2 linked regions of the Homo sapiens genome follow. The protein of the gene in region 1 interacts with the protein of each later gene in a biochemical or structural test. Each region holds a gene or a part of one and is shown in the gene's direction. Other genes may lie near its edges.

Region 1 (7,753 bases):
CATGCTGGATTAAATTGGACTCTAATCCAATGACTGGTGGCCTTATAAGAAGAGGTAAGAGACACCGAGACACACACCCAGGGAAGGCCATAAGAAGACAGAGGCAGAGATGGAGTGATGAATCCTCAAGACCAGGAAGGCCAAGCACTGCTGGTAATCAGCAGATGCTGGAGGAGGCAAGAACAGATCCCTCCCTGGAGCCTTCAGGGAGAGCATGGCCCAGCTGACACCTTGATTTCAGGCTTCTAACCTGTGAGAGGATACATTTCTGTTGTTTTAGGCCACCTAGTTTTTGGTACTTTCTTACAGCAGCTGTAATGCAAAAGGAGAGAGAGAGAAGGCTAGTGGGCTCTGCAGGGGTAGTTGTGAGGACTAACTATTTAATCAGGTATAGTCACCAAGTGTATATTTATGGAAGCTTGCTCTGTATCTAGTTTTATAAAAAGAACCAAGAAAGCTCTTTTTCTCCCTGGACTTTGTTTTATCTGTATTGGGATGTGAACATTTCTGCCCAGTTGTCTCCAGATTTCCAGTCTTGGTAGAGTGTGTTGCAAAGTGTCTCCCCACAGTCTCCTCCACTGGAACCCTGTGGGGAAAGGGGGACTTTCATGCAGGGGGCCTTGGCTTATTATCTCAGCAGCTATAGGGGTTGAGCCAACACACTCTGGCTCCTGCCGGGGGCAGGCTCCTGCTGTCTGCTTTCCAGCTGGGTGCCTGCTCTTTGCTCTCTGATTCCCCCTCCTGTTTGGTTCTCTGGCCCCTGCTGGCTGGGTCGCTGCCCCCTGGCATCATCACTCTGAAGCCAGCAGCCCTGCTGGGCCATTCACAGGCATACCCTAGTGGGGGTAAGGGGCAGATGTTATTTCTTTGTCCCCCTCCCAGCAAACACACACACACACACACACACACACACACACACACAATCTCACACTCAATATGTATTAATGTCCTGGGAAGGGGTCCAGGCAGAGAGTGATGGCAGGCTACAGGCTCTGGGGGGATGCAAATGGACCGGACAGTGTGTGTGTACATTGGGGGGAGGCAGTGGTAGTAATGGGGGGTTGTCTTCAGACTGCACTCCTGGGCAATTACATGCCAGCAGCTTCATCCACTACCAGCCGGCATGCAGGCTTTAGACCACCAAGAAGCCTCCCCATATGGCCCCAGCTTGGCCACTGAAAATTCCCAGCCACATTCTCTGGCCGATATGCTGGCACTAGGCCAAGAAAGTTAGCCTGGGGTAGCTGTTCTCTCCCCTAGCACGTGAACACACACACACACACTCACACACCAGTGGGGGGTGGGATGGAGAGTTCCTTTAGAGGCTCATGATTCCCAAAACACCACTCTTGTGTAGGGTTCCTGCCTTACTCATAATCACTTGCCCTTCCCATTTCCCATGTTCCTCTGCAAATCCACCCACCCAAAATACCACCATAGGAAAGAAATATTCCTCTTCTATATTACCTCATCAACTCCTGGCCCAGGGCTCTTTTCTAGGGCTCTACCTGTGAACCCACACATGCACACACACGCAAACACACACACACACACACACTTCTTCCCATCAGATGCTGTAACCTTATCAGAACAAACTTAGCTCCTAACTCTACAAATTCAACTCGCCCCAACCTCCCTGCTTCCTGCTACTCTCTCTTCTTTCTGCCAAATCTCCTTCAAAACCTCTGTTTCTTTTTCTTACCCTTTCTAAAGTCTGGACTGTACATATTGTTGGTAAAACTCTGGGAAAGAAGTAGTTTCCTGAGGTGGTAGAAGAGAGGGTCTCTAAACCCAACTCTGACTCTTTCTCCAGCCCAAGGTGGAAATTTATAAGTCAACAGAATGAATGCACCCCGGCTGAGGCTCCTCCAATTGCAGGGCATCTACTCAGTGTTTTAGGTGCTGTACAGGCACTTACAGTTGACAAATTAGGAAATGGACATAGTTGCAAAGAGTTGCATACCCACTCCAGAAAAAGGACAAAGAGTTGTCTTGGTAATTTTCAGAGAGCAGAGCAGGCAGTGAGGAGACTAGTAGGAGGCAAACCCCTTTCAGAACTGCCTATGGGGGTAGCCAGGAGAGAAGCTGGATGTGGACAGGGGCAGGGCCAGTTTCTAGGCTGCCTGTCTGACCCTCAGTAAAGAAGAGAAGGTGGGGAGAGGGCTGCAGAAGAGCTGGGAGGTGTGACTTCTGCTGGGCCTTCTCTGCCCACTCTCTGCTCCACTCTGCCTAGCCCAGGGCCGTAAGGACACTAGAGAATGGGAAGGAAAAGGGAGGGAACTTAGGTTATGGTTGGGAGGTATTTATTCTCTGATATCCCCAGTTGGGAGAACTCAGCCCTCTTGGCTTAGATCTGAGTTTGGTTTAAAAGGAGAGTATCATCAAGATAAAGAGAAGTACAAAGAAGGAAAGAGCAGAGAGAAACAAGAAAAAGTGGAGAGTGAAAATTAGAGAGAGCCCAGACGAGGTGAAGTGTAGGAGAGACAGCAGATTCCTGGAAAGTAGAGTGGCCCGGCTATTTGTCCAGCCTCCAAACCCACGTGACAGGGACTGTGAAGCAGCCTTGCTCACGGGTTGAGCCGCGCCTCCGCTCAGGGAACCCTGAGCAAATACGCCCTGATCCCCACATAAAGGGCCAATTAACTGCGCCGTCTCCGGGAACAAATCCGCTAACAGGGTGACAAGCCCCTAGACGCTGGCAGGCCCTGTGTTTGCGGAGAGGCCAGCCGGGAGCAAATCAGGGCATTAGGACCGGGCAGGAGCCGCATGGTGGGAGGGTTTCTGGCCCCCTCCGCCCCAGAGTAGGGCCTGGTACCAGGACGTGGGGTTTCTATCCCGATTCAGCCTCTGCTGTGATGGAACCCAGGTGACCGCGGTCAGCAGGGGGCGGAGCAAAGGGCCCCGGAGCCTCGAATCTCACAGGTCAGAGTAGATCAAGCACTCCAATTCCTCCTTAACAGATGGGAAAACTGAGATCCAAAGCGGTGACGTCTTGTACTTGGCAAACGTAGAATTAGAACCCACTTCTGTGTTGGTCATTCCTGAAGGATAGATTTCGGGTGGGAAATACATCCCTTACTTTCTCTCTTATCTGAATACCACCCTGGAGCGAGGAAGGGAGGGGCGTCAAATCTCTTATTATCTTCTTGCTTTTGAAAGGATGTGTCTCTAGCCCGTCTCCCACCTACCCCAGTCCTCAGCCTCAGGGTCTGCTCGGATTTATGTCTTCCCTGGGGGCTCCAGGGCCCTAGTCAGGCACCTGCAGATGAGGTGCTGAAAAGGACAGCTCCCAGGGCGCTGCGTGGCGGTGGGGTGGGGGGTCCATCCGGCCCCACCCCCACTCCCACCTACCCCCTCCCCCACACCTAGTGCTTCCAGCCTTTCTACGTCCCGCCCAGAACTGCTAGGGTTGGAAGGCACCTAAACACCCATAGTTGGAGGCTCACAGCCAGGCGCCTGGACTGAGGAAGGAGGCTTGGAACAAGCCCCCCACCCCTTGACAATGTCTCGGGTTCCCTTGAACAAGCTCTGCCTGAAATATTTCAATTCTTGATTCTGCTTACTCCAGAGTCTGCGACTGTATAGCACCCACCCCTCTGATCTCGACCCCTTTGGGGTCAGAAGCAGTCGCCCCATGAAAGTTGTCTCATCCCAGAACCTGACGGCTGAGCCAGAACTCTGGCACTGACTCTTCAATCAGCAGGGCCTTACCTCAGGTTAGGAATGCCCCGGCCTCTCTCTTTCCCTGATACCCCAAAGCCATCTCCTGTCTAGGAAAGTGAGTTTGTCGAGGTGGGTCTTCAGGTAGAAAGAACTCCAGAAAAGTCAGAAGCAGACCGCGACTGGAAGTGGGAGGTGGGAGTAGGGGCCCATGGTTTTCTTTTCGCCCCCCCCAGGAAGGACGACTGCTATCCGATTTGAACAGATTTGCACTAATTTTGCAGCAATCCCACATGCCTTTACAAAAATAATATTATCTTTGTTTTTGTCCTAGAATCCTTGGTTCCATTTCAGTCTCCTCAAAAACGTAAAACAATTTAATAAAAAATGTCAAAGCAGGGTAATGTAAAAGGATTCAAATAAATGACAGTTGCCTGGGTTTCCCTGGCTTTCAGTCTCCTACAGGAACTCCTAGATTAGGGCGTTTGGAGCAGGACTCCCGGGTCAGGGCGCGCCGCTCCATCCTCTGGCCTCCTGGCTGCAGACCAAAGGACCAGAGGGCAGAGAGGTGGACCTGTCTTGGAATTCTCTGCCTACTCCCAACTCTTGCTGCAAACCACCCCAGTCTCCTGCCCTTCCGTCGCCAAACCCCTAGACTTGGGAGGGAATGGAAACCAGAACTTTGGCAGCAAGGAGCATTGCTTGCGCTTTGCCTCAGTTTCCAAAAGGTTCGGGAAAAGAGAGGACAGATTCCTGTTCTAAAGTTGGGCAGAAGGGCAGAGTCCGACAGAGCCTCGTCCCTCATCTTGGGTGCTTTGAGACAGGGAAAATCTCTCGCCGCGTCCAGAACGGAACGCTGGGCTTGGGGTGCGGGGCGGGGACTCCAACTCGCGCGCTACGCTACTCGTGTCTCCTGCTCGGATAGTGACTGTAGAGGTAAGGGTGGGAGGGTGGAGGGAGGCGGATTAATCCCTTAATTACGCCGTGATCGGCGTGGCACCTGCTTTCCGCCTGCCCAGCTCCCAGGGGACTCCGGCACTAGGGGGTGGAGAGAAGGACGAGGGAAGGAGGAGGGCACGAAGAGGCACCGACCGTACCCAGGCGCACCGGCAGGAGAGCGGCACCGTGGCTGCCGCAGCGCGCAGAGGCTGTGGAGGGGCTTACGGCTCCCAGCCCACGGGTCTCAGACCCAGGGGCTGGGCCCCCAGCCCCCAGTCCCGATCCCAGCTGGGTCGAGCCATGCTGCGCTACCTGCTGAAAACGCTGCTGCAGATGAACTTGTTCGCGGACTCTCTGGCCGGGGACATCTCCAACTCCAGCGAGCTGCTCTTGGGCTTCAACTCCTCGCTGGCGGCGCTCAACCACACCCTGCTGCCTCCCGGCGATCCCTCTCTCAACGGTGAGACCCTGCCTCTTGGGGATATGGGATCCTGGGATGGGGATGAGGTGAGAGGGCGGCGTGGAAGGGAAGGAGAAGCGCTCCTGTCCCGAGGTCCGGGATTGAGTGGCGCCTCCCAGCGCCTCCCTGGGTCGTGGGGTCTAAGGGATAATTTGGAGCTTCGAGCACATGAGTGGGGGTACCCGCGGGAGGTCGAGGGCTTGGGAGAAGATGGCTACTGAGTCTTTTTACACCTCCTTCCCTTCCCCTACAACGCCCACCCCAGGTGAGAAGAACCGTTGCTGGTAACGGGCAGGGAAGTCCGAGCTAAGAAAGGCCCGGGCCCAGCGCAGGGAGGGCAGAGGAGGGGGCACAGTCTCCCGCCGGCCTCGGCCAAGCCAGGTCACTCGGTGACCCACCCAGGCAGCTGGTCTTCGGAACCCCGAAGTTTCCCAAGAACTCACTTAGGACCAGAGGAAGCCAAAATGCTGGATGTGTTTGCTACGGAGGGGATAGGGGCGGCGATCATTTTAAGGAAACTTAGAAGTTTGTCTTTCAGCGGCGGGACTCTCAGCCGGCCCACCCCGGCAGAGCTGTGGCGGGCGGGCGGAGCTGGCGGCGAGGTCGTTACCGCTAATTACGGTGATTAATAAATGACTGGGACAGCGCGCTCTCCCCTAGCGCCGCGGGGAAGCTGCGGGAGCCGGCCGCCGCCAGCCTGCGGAGAGGCCGGAGCGCGCCCCCTGCCTGCCGCATCGGGAACCCCCGCTTTACCGGGCGCTTTCGCGTGTGGTTCCCTCCAGGTGCACGCGGTCCCCATCCCTCTGCCTCGACCCACTCGAGTCTAGTGACGAGCACTGTGCTGGGGACTCGAAGGTGGAGAGAAAGGAGACCCTGGCAATATGTGTGTGTTCATGTGTGGGGCACATCAGGTGCTGAGGGAGGAGCCCCAGAGCCTCATTAGCATGGCCATTAGCTATTCATTAGGCTGCAGTCGAAGCATCTCCTGAGACCGGGAAGGGTAGAGGGGGAAATTCCAGGGAAAGGGCGCCTGCAGCTGTGTCTACAGGAATTAGGGGGAAAAGGCCGACCAGAAGGGTGTGGTCCGTATAGAAGGATTGGGGAGAAAGACGATGGGGGAGGAGCCCGATTCTCCAACCTCTTGACCCTCCTAGATTTCCAGGAGGTTAAGCACAGATCCCTTCTCGCTGGCACCCCGCAGAGTCCCGCTTCTGCTCACCTAGCGCGTTTACAGAGTGTTTTCACCATACTTTGTCTCATCTAAGCTCGAAACTTAGTGAGGTATGCAAGGAAGGTGTTGACAGACACATTTTGCCGCCGAGAAAACGCTTTATAGAGTGAATGGTGCCCTAATCGTCACAAAAGCAGCATGAAGCAAAACCTAGCGATAACAGATCAGTCCATTTCCATTACACCTGAGGGCTATACCAAGGGGAAAAAAGAATATTGGGGCCTGGTAGAATTTGATTCAGGTAGAGACTGTAGGAGCCAAGATAAGGTGCATATGCTGGGAACACAAGCCCTTAAATAATGGCAGAGTAGTGACGTTTATCCCCCAAGGGCTTTACATACATTATGGTCTTAGAGCAACCCTATCACTGCTCTCACATCACAAAGAAAGAAACTGAGACTGAGAGAAGTTAAATAATTTGCCCAAGTTCTTACAGCTAGGAAGCGTCAAAGTCTGAGATTCCAGCCCTGGTTGGTTCAACAGCAACACTTGCTCTCAATCACTCCAGTGTTGCTCACCACGGGGTGTTCCAAAATTGGGAATGGGAGGAGATGGAGGAGAAGAGAAGGGTGAAAAGCAGAGATTTCCATTTGGAAGGGAGGAGATGGAGAAAATTACTCTCCCAAGTGGGACAGAAATCGATCTTCTTGACTCCAGGCAATTAAAATAAACTCAGAACAGCGCCAGCACGGGTCAGCCTGTCCAGCTTTGTCTACAACAGAACTTCTAAGAGGGGGGGCAGGAAATGAAACCCAATCTCACAGGCGGGCTGGAAGCGGGAGGTTCCTGCAGATTTTGGAACAGGGTAGGAAGGGGGGAACAGGGGGAGGGGGCAGGGGGCAGAACAGATGCTTGAAGTGGTCCCTGGTTATTTTACAGCAGGTTATTAAAGGCTGCAGTGGCACCTACTGGCCGCCACGGGTTACAAATCCACTTTTGTTGGCTGGACTAGGGGCTGAGAGTGCCGGAGTATAACAGGCTCCGGGATCCTAACCGTGCTGCAGAAGGTGAAACAGGCCAAAGTCTGCAGGCCAAGTGACAGGTAGGACAGAATATGTGGATGAACTGATCGGAGTGAACAGGGGAAGTAGAGGAACATCAATCAGTAGAATAATCTATTGGAAACTATGCACCTGTCAGGAAAAGGAGCCTTACTAACATTTCTACTGCTATTTGCGTTCAATTCCTGTGACTTCACAGGACCCTTGAAATGAAGCGTGATTATCCGGGGTGTCAGTAAGAAGGGCCCTGTGCCGATTCATAGAATCCAGGTTGACAAGCCCTTCTAGGCCCGGCCCTGTCACTCCCGTCTTGCCTTTCATAAGGGATCCCAAGCCAGTCCACATTCCCAATTTCACTGAGCCAGGACCTTGCAGAAGTCAAGAACAAACTGTTGGCTCCAGTGCACGGTTTATGGTCTTTCACTGAGCAAGGACGATCCGTGAACCAGTGCAGGTGGAGAT
Region 2 (7,028 bases), on another chromosome or scaffold:
TTGTCCATAGTAACTAGATATCCATGTACATTGATGAATTGGTTGTTTTTCCTTCCTTGTTGATGCCGAGCTCAATATTTAGACAGAGTAAATGCCTAACAAATATGGTTTATGAGATTTGAAGGTGTAAAATTTCATTTTCTGCCAAATTATGGACTTTATTTAATATAACCAATCAATCAGCAAGTATTTCCTGCATGCCATGTTCTCAGTAGGCATATATTACTGATGTATTGATTATGCTCTTGTGATTTCTTTTATTCTAAGATTCGGATTATGAAATTGACAAAAGGTGGCCCTTTGGCCATGCATGGAATTTCGCATTACCTTGGCAAGGTCTTTGCTAATAGCATTTGGAAACTTGTTAAGAAGTCAGTTCCGAGTCTTGCTGCTTCATTGAGATTTCCTTTGGCTTTAGAGAGAAAAAAATATACAGACTGAAGATTTTATAGATTCTATTTACAGTGAGTTGAGGGTGCTGCAGATATTTTGTACGGTATATACATATACACTATACATAGTCATAGCAGGAATAGTAACAAATTACAAAATCCGTGAGATGCTCTCAGGTTTCATATGAACCTATCATATAAGTTTCTTTGTGCTATCAGATATGTTCTAAATAGATGGAAGAGATTTTTGGACCATCAAATTTTTCCTGCAGTAATGTAACCATCTTCTTCTGTCTTTTAGCTTTAAAATAAAGAAATCTCAACATATACTTTCCCAGTGATTTTTGCTCATTTAATATTGCTTTTCCTTGTGCCAGTTTTTCTCCTTAGTGGATTTTGAGATGCATGCAATTCAATACCTTTTGAAACTCGTAAATTTATTATTATCTATACCTAATAAAAACAAATGGAAATATATTTTAAAGTCATATGTTTTAAAAATAATAATAGCAACTATAGTATCACTAAAATGGTTTTGTTGTTGTTGAAATTTGATTTATAGTTGTTTTGGAAATTCAAGTAATAAGATGCTAAATTAGATTACACCTTAATAAATATGGCTTTTGATCTTTGCCAATTACCATAATTTTCAAAAAAGGAATCCAGGCAATTTTCTAGTCATTTCTAGCTATAATCTGACTTGCAGCCACAAAAATACACTTATTATGCTTTTAAAAATTAGAGGAGTGAATGTAGACAATAAAAAGACCTATGAAAGGTTATAAAGGGTTCTACTTTCTAAAATCTAGGAAGTATTCCCCAAGATAATGATCATAATAATGTTTTTTTCCTCTCTGTACATGAGGGATCAGGAATGAGAGTATACAGAAGCACCATTCTAGGACTTTCTAGCAATGTTAGCATGATTTTTAGATCTTTGATTTTAACAATTAATCTGGCCAGGTTCCCAAAGTAGATAATTTCCTCTGTTGGTTTAATACAATTTCTTCTGAAGTGTTAACAGATTTTATAATCTCATTAATCCATAGAAGAGAAGTGGATAAAATCAAAGCATGTTTTTTTTACAAGTTGTTAAGTTGAAAATAAGCTTAGTAGTTATTTGTAAAAAACTTTAAGGTTTTAAAGGGAAAAAAAGGTCGTACGTCTCCTCTTATGCCAGTGTTACGCAGAGTGAAATAGGCATTTGGTAATAGACCATGGACTTTAGTAGGCAAAGGTAACTGCATTGAGGAAATCGAGGTGGCACTAATTTGTCTTCAGTATGATGGTTGGTGAGCATCTGTGGACTTTGAAGTGATGGCTGTTGGTGCCCAAATAGTGTGGAATAACACAGTGTTTAAGAGATGCACTTAGAAACAAGATAGACTGAGGTGGAATTTCATTAGTTGTTTTACTGTGGTGAAGTTACTTAATTTCTCTAAGCTCCAGTACCCTCAATTATAAAATGATCATTGTTATGACAATTAAGCGAGTTACTTTCATTCTTTCAAATAAGTTATTTTTGGGAAACTAGCATACTGCTAGGTGTTAGGCACATAACAAATGAAGACGTTAGAACTTAACTTTGATTTCATAGTGTCTTAAAAATAGCCGTTGAACAATTACATAGTTACAGACCTAATCACCATTAAGATAAATTATATGAAGAAAAACTGAAGATATAATGGGAATCTATATTTTAGTTAGGGGAGTCTCAGGCTCAGGGAAACCATCTTTGAAGAATAGTCATTTAAGCTGATAGTTGAAGGATATGTAAGAGTAGTCCAAAGAAGAGAAGCTATGGGGATAGGCAAAGGGACTAGTGTGTGAGCAAGGTTCTGAGCATGGGATGAATGTGCATTTGAGAACGTGGAGGAAGTCTAGAGAAGTAGAAACATAGGGCATGTGATATGAAATAAAGTATATGAGGAAAGCAGGAACCAGGTTACATGGTAGGCTATACTAATAGAGCAGAATTGAAAATTTATCATTATGGAAATATATATTATGGTGGGCAGAATAATGGTCCTGCATAGATGTTCATGTCTTAATTCTTGGAACCAAACAATAGGTTACGTTATACAGCAAGGGGAAGTTAAGTTTGCTCATCAGCTGACTTTAAGATTAGGAGGCTATCATAGGTTATCTGGGTGAGCCCTGTGTAATCAGAAGAATCTTTTGAAATGGGGAGAAGGAAGCAGAATAGTCAGTGTAGAGTGATGTGATATGAGAAAAACTAGTCTGGCCACTGGTGGCTTTAAAGGTGATAGTGGGCCACAAGCCAAGGACTGCAGGCAGTTTTTAGATGCTGAAAAAGGCAAGAAAATGAGTTTTCTCTTACAGCCTCCAGAAGGAATGTAGTGCTACTGATACCTTGATTTTAGACCAATGAGACTCATTTTGGACTTCTGATCTCCAGAACTGTGAGATAATAGATTTGTGTTGATTTAAGTCACTAAGTTTGTGGTGATTTGTTTGAGCAGCAATAGGAAACGAATACAAATTTTCCTGCATGGAAGTGTGGTGCTGGTGTAAGAAATACCTAAAAAATATGGAAGTGGCTTTGGAACTGGGCAATGGGCAGATGCTGGATGAATTTTTAGGAGCATGATAGAAAAAGCCTAGATTGCCTTAAATAGACTTTCAGTAGAAATATGGTTATTGGTGACTCTATTATTGAGGACTTAGAAGAAAGTGAAGAGCATGGTAGAGAGAAAATCTAAATCACCTCTGAATATTCCTAAATTATCATAAGCGAGCATTGGTTAGGTATAGACATTGAAGGAACTGCCATTGAGGGCTCAGATGGATATAAAGAATTTTTATTATAAACTGAAGGAAAGGGGACCCTTCTTACACAGTGGCAGAAAACTTAGCTGAATTGTACCCTGTGGTTATGTGGAAAGCAAAACTTGTAAACAATGAACTTAGATTTTAGCTAAGGTGATTTGTAAGCAACAAAAGTGTTGAAGGTGCACTCTGGCTTTTTCTTGCTGTTTGTAGTAACGTGAGAGGAGAGAGAGAGATTTAGGGAATAATTGTTGAGCAAAACATATTCATAACTTGATATTTGAGAAATTATCAACCTATTCAGATTCCAAAACATGTTAAAATAGGATATTCACTGTTAGGAATACCTAGTCTGAAAAGAAAGCCAAGGATGTGACTAGAAAATATTTTGCTAGTGCCTCAGAAATATCAAAAGGTCAGAGTATTCAGTTACATTGAGGGCTCTTTGAAGAACATATGACTCATAGATCCCCTCAACCATTTCAGCAGAGGTCACAAATAGAGATGGAATTATCCAAGAAATATCTATGGAGGAGCCTTTTTTGTTTAATGGAGTGAATCCCCATGACATACATGGGAGATCTACAAGGTTCTTAAGAATATTATGGCAGTAAAATTGCTGCTGGTGTGGCCTGAAAGAATCAGTGAGAGAATAAAATGAAAGAAGGTGTTGGATCCCCAAAATTCTACAAGCAAAAAACAGGCTGACTTGGCTGTCAACATCTTTCTATGAAGCTACCTTTCATGAAAAAAGAAGGTTAATTCAAAGGGCAGAACTCAGAGCCCAGAGCATGGAGCTGACTCCAGAGGGTGGAACCAATAATTACAGAAGCTTATTTCTAGACCTTGAAACCAAGTGGTGTTTGCCTGGCTGGATTTTAAAGTTGCTTGGATATGGCAATTGTTTTTTTTTCTTTCTTCCATTTTCTCCCTTTTTGAATGAGAATATTTAGAACTATCATCTTTATCTGCCTTACCATTGTGTTTTTGAGAGCAGATACTATGTTTCAAGGTGTGCCTCAGAATGGATTATATGCAGCGCCTTTCTCATACCTGTTTTAGATGATTTGGATGATGAGATTTGAGACTTTTGTTTTTGTTTTATGTTTTGTTACTTAAAATTTAATTATTTTTAAATTGACAAAATTGTATACATTTATTGTGTACAACACAATATTTTGAAATATACATTGTGGAATGGCTAAATTGAGCTAATTAACATATTCATTACCTCATGTACTTATAATTTTTTTTGGTGAGAACACTTAAAATCTATTTGAAATTTTGAAGAGTACAATGTATTATTACTATAGTCATTATGTTGTACCATAGATCTCTTGAACATATTGTGCCATCTAATTGAATTTTGGTCCTTTGACCAACATCTCCCCAACAACTATCCCCCATCCCCAGGCCCTAGTAACCAGCATTCTACTTTCTGCTCCTATAAGTTCAACTTTTTAAGGTCCCACATATAAGTGAGATCATGTGGTATTTGTCTTTCTGTGAAGGGCTTATTTCACTTTACATAATGTCTTCCAGGTTGATCCACGTTGTCTCAAATAACAGGATTTTCTTCTTTGAGGTGGAATAGTATTCCATTGTGTACATATACCACATTTTCTTTATGTGTTCATTTGCATTCGTATGTTCTTTGCAGCATTATTCATAATTGTCAAGATGTGAGATCAACCTAATTAATGGTCACCAATGGATGAATGAATACAGAAAAATGTCATTGGAATTTTAATAAGGGTCGCAGTAAATCTGTAGATCATTTTGGATAGTGTGGAAATTTTAACAATATTAATTCTTTGAATCCATGACCAAAGCATATCTTTTCATTTATTTGTGTCTTCTTCATTTCTTTCATCAGTGTTTTATAGTTTCAGTATACAGCTCTTTCACCTTCTTGATTAAATTTATATGTAAGTATTTTATCTTTTTCATAGCCATTGTAAATGAGATTGTTTTCATGATTTCTTTTTCAGGTAGTTCATTTTTTTTTTTTTTTTTTTTTTTTGAGATGGAGCCTCACTGTTTCACCTAGGCTGGAGAGCAGTGGTGAGATCTAGGCTCACTGCAACCTCTGCCTCCTAGGTTCAAATTATTCTCCTGCATCAGCCTCCCAAGTAGCTGAGATTACAGGCACCCGTCACTACACCCGGCTAATTTTTGTATTTTTAGTAGAGACAGGGTTTCACCATGTTGGCCAGGCCAGTCTTGAACTCCTCACCTCAAGTGATTGGACCGCCTCGGGCTCACAAAGTGCTGGGATTACAGGTGTGAGCCACTGCACCTCACCAGTTTATTGTTAACATAGAGACACTACTTTTTGTTTGTATATTGATTTGATATCCTGAAACTCTACTGAAATCATTTATTAGTTCTGACAATTTTTTGGTGGCATCTTCAGGATTTTCTAGATATAAGATGATGTCAAATGCAAGCAGGGATAAGTTAACCTCTTCCTTCCCAATTTTGATGCCTTTTATTTCTTTCTCTTGCCTAATTGCAAGTCTAGGACTTACAGTACTATGTTGAATAGAAGTGGCAAGATTGGGCATCCTTGTCTTTTTCCTTATTTTAGAGGAAAAACTTTCAACTTTTTACTGTTGAGTATAATGTTAGCTGTAGATTTGTTATATCTGAACTTTATTGTGTTGAGATACATTTCTTCTATACATTTATTGAGAGTTTTTATCATGAAATGATGTTGAATTTTGTCAAATGTTTTCCTGCATATGTTGAAATGATCATGTGGATTTTGTCCTTTATTCTGTTAATTTGATGTATCACATTTATAGATTTGTGTATGTTGAGCCATTCTTGCCTCCTTGGGATAAATCCTACTTGATCATGGTGAATGATACTTTTAATGTGCTGTTGAGTTTGGTTTGCTAGTATTTCGTTGAGGATTATTTCATCTCTGTTCGTCAGCAATATTGGCCTGTAATTTTCTTGTAGTATCCTTATTTGGCTTTGGTGTCATAGTAATGCTGGCCTTATAAGATAAATTTGGAATTTATTCCCTCTTCTTCATTTTTTTGGAAGAGTTTGAGAAGGATTGGTATTGGTTATTTAAATAGAGTTTAGCAGTGAAGCCATCAGGCCTTGGACTTTTCTTTGATGAAGGACTTTTTATTATTGATTCAATTTGCTTACAAGTTATTTGTCTGTTCAGATTTTTCATTTTTTCATGATTTTGTCTTGGTAAGTTGTATGTGTCTAGGAATGAATACATTCCTAGACATATACACTTAAACTTCTAAGTTTATCTAATTTGTTGGCATATAATTGTTTATAGTAGTCTCATGATGTTTTGTATTTCTGTGGTATCAGTAATAATGTCTCTTCTTTCATTTCTGATTTTATTTATTTGAGTCTTCTCTCTTTTTTCTTAAATTTCTTAGCTAAAGGCATGTCAATTTTGTTTATCTTCATTAGAAAACAACTCTCTGTTTCATTTATTTTTTCTATTAATTTTAGTCTCTCTCATTTATTTCTGCTCTGATCTTTATTATTTCATTCCTTTGGTCTTACTTTGGTCTTATTTTGTTTTTCTTTTTGTAGTTCATTTATTTGTAACTTTAGGTTATTTGTTTGAGATTTTCTTCTTTTTAAATGTAGGCATTTGTTGCTATAAACTTACCTCTGAAAACTGCTTTTGCTGCATCCTTTATGTTTTGGTATGTTGTGTCCATTCTCATGTGTTTCAAGATGTCTTCTAATTTCCCTAATTTCCCCTTTCCTTCTAATTTCCCTTTTAATTTCTTTTTTGACCAATTAGTTGTTCATGAGCATGTTAATTTTTATGTATTTGCAAATTTTGTGGAATTCTCCTGT

Evidence for each region. The genes of interacting proteins can lie anywhere in the genome.
Region 2: the proteins of ROBO3 (region 1) and NELL2 form a complex in vitro, tested with the Homo sapiens proteins (one study listed by IntAct).

The regions. Positions count from the first base shown.
Region 1 is NC_000011.10:124,860,679-124,868,431, forward strand, and holds the start of ROBO3 (roundabout homolog 3 isoform a precursor), read left to right. Parts: upstream 1-4,753; 5' UTR 4,754-4,899; coding exon 4,900-5,059; intron 5,060-7,753. UniProt on the Homo sapiens protein: Receptor involved in axon guidance during development. Acts as a multifunctional regulator of pathfinding that simultaneously mediates NELL2 repulsion, inhibits SLIT repulsion, and facilitates Netrin-1/NTN1 attraction.
Region 2 is NC_000012.12:44,866,297-44,873,324, reverse strand, and holds part of NELL2 (protein kinase C-binding protein NELL2 isoform b precursor), read left to right. Parts: intron 1-7,028. UniProt on the Homo sapiens protein: Plays multiple roles in neural tissues, regulates neuronal proliferation, survival, differentiation, polarization, as well as axon guidance and synaptic functions.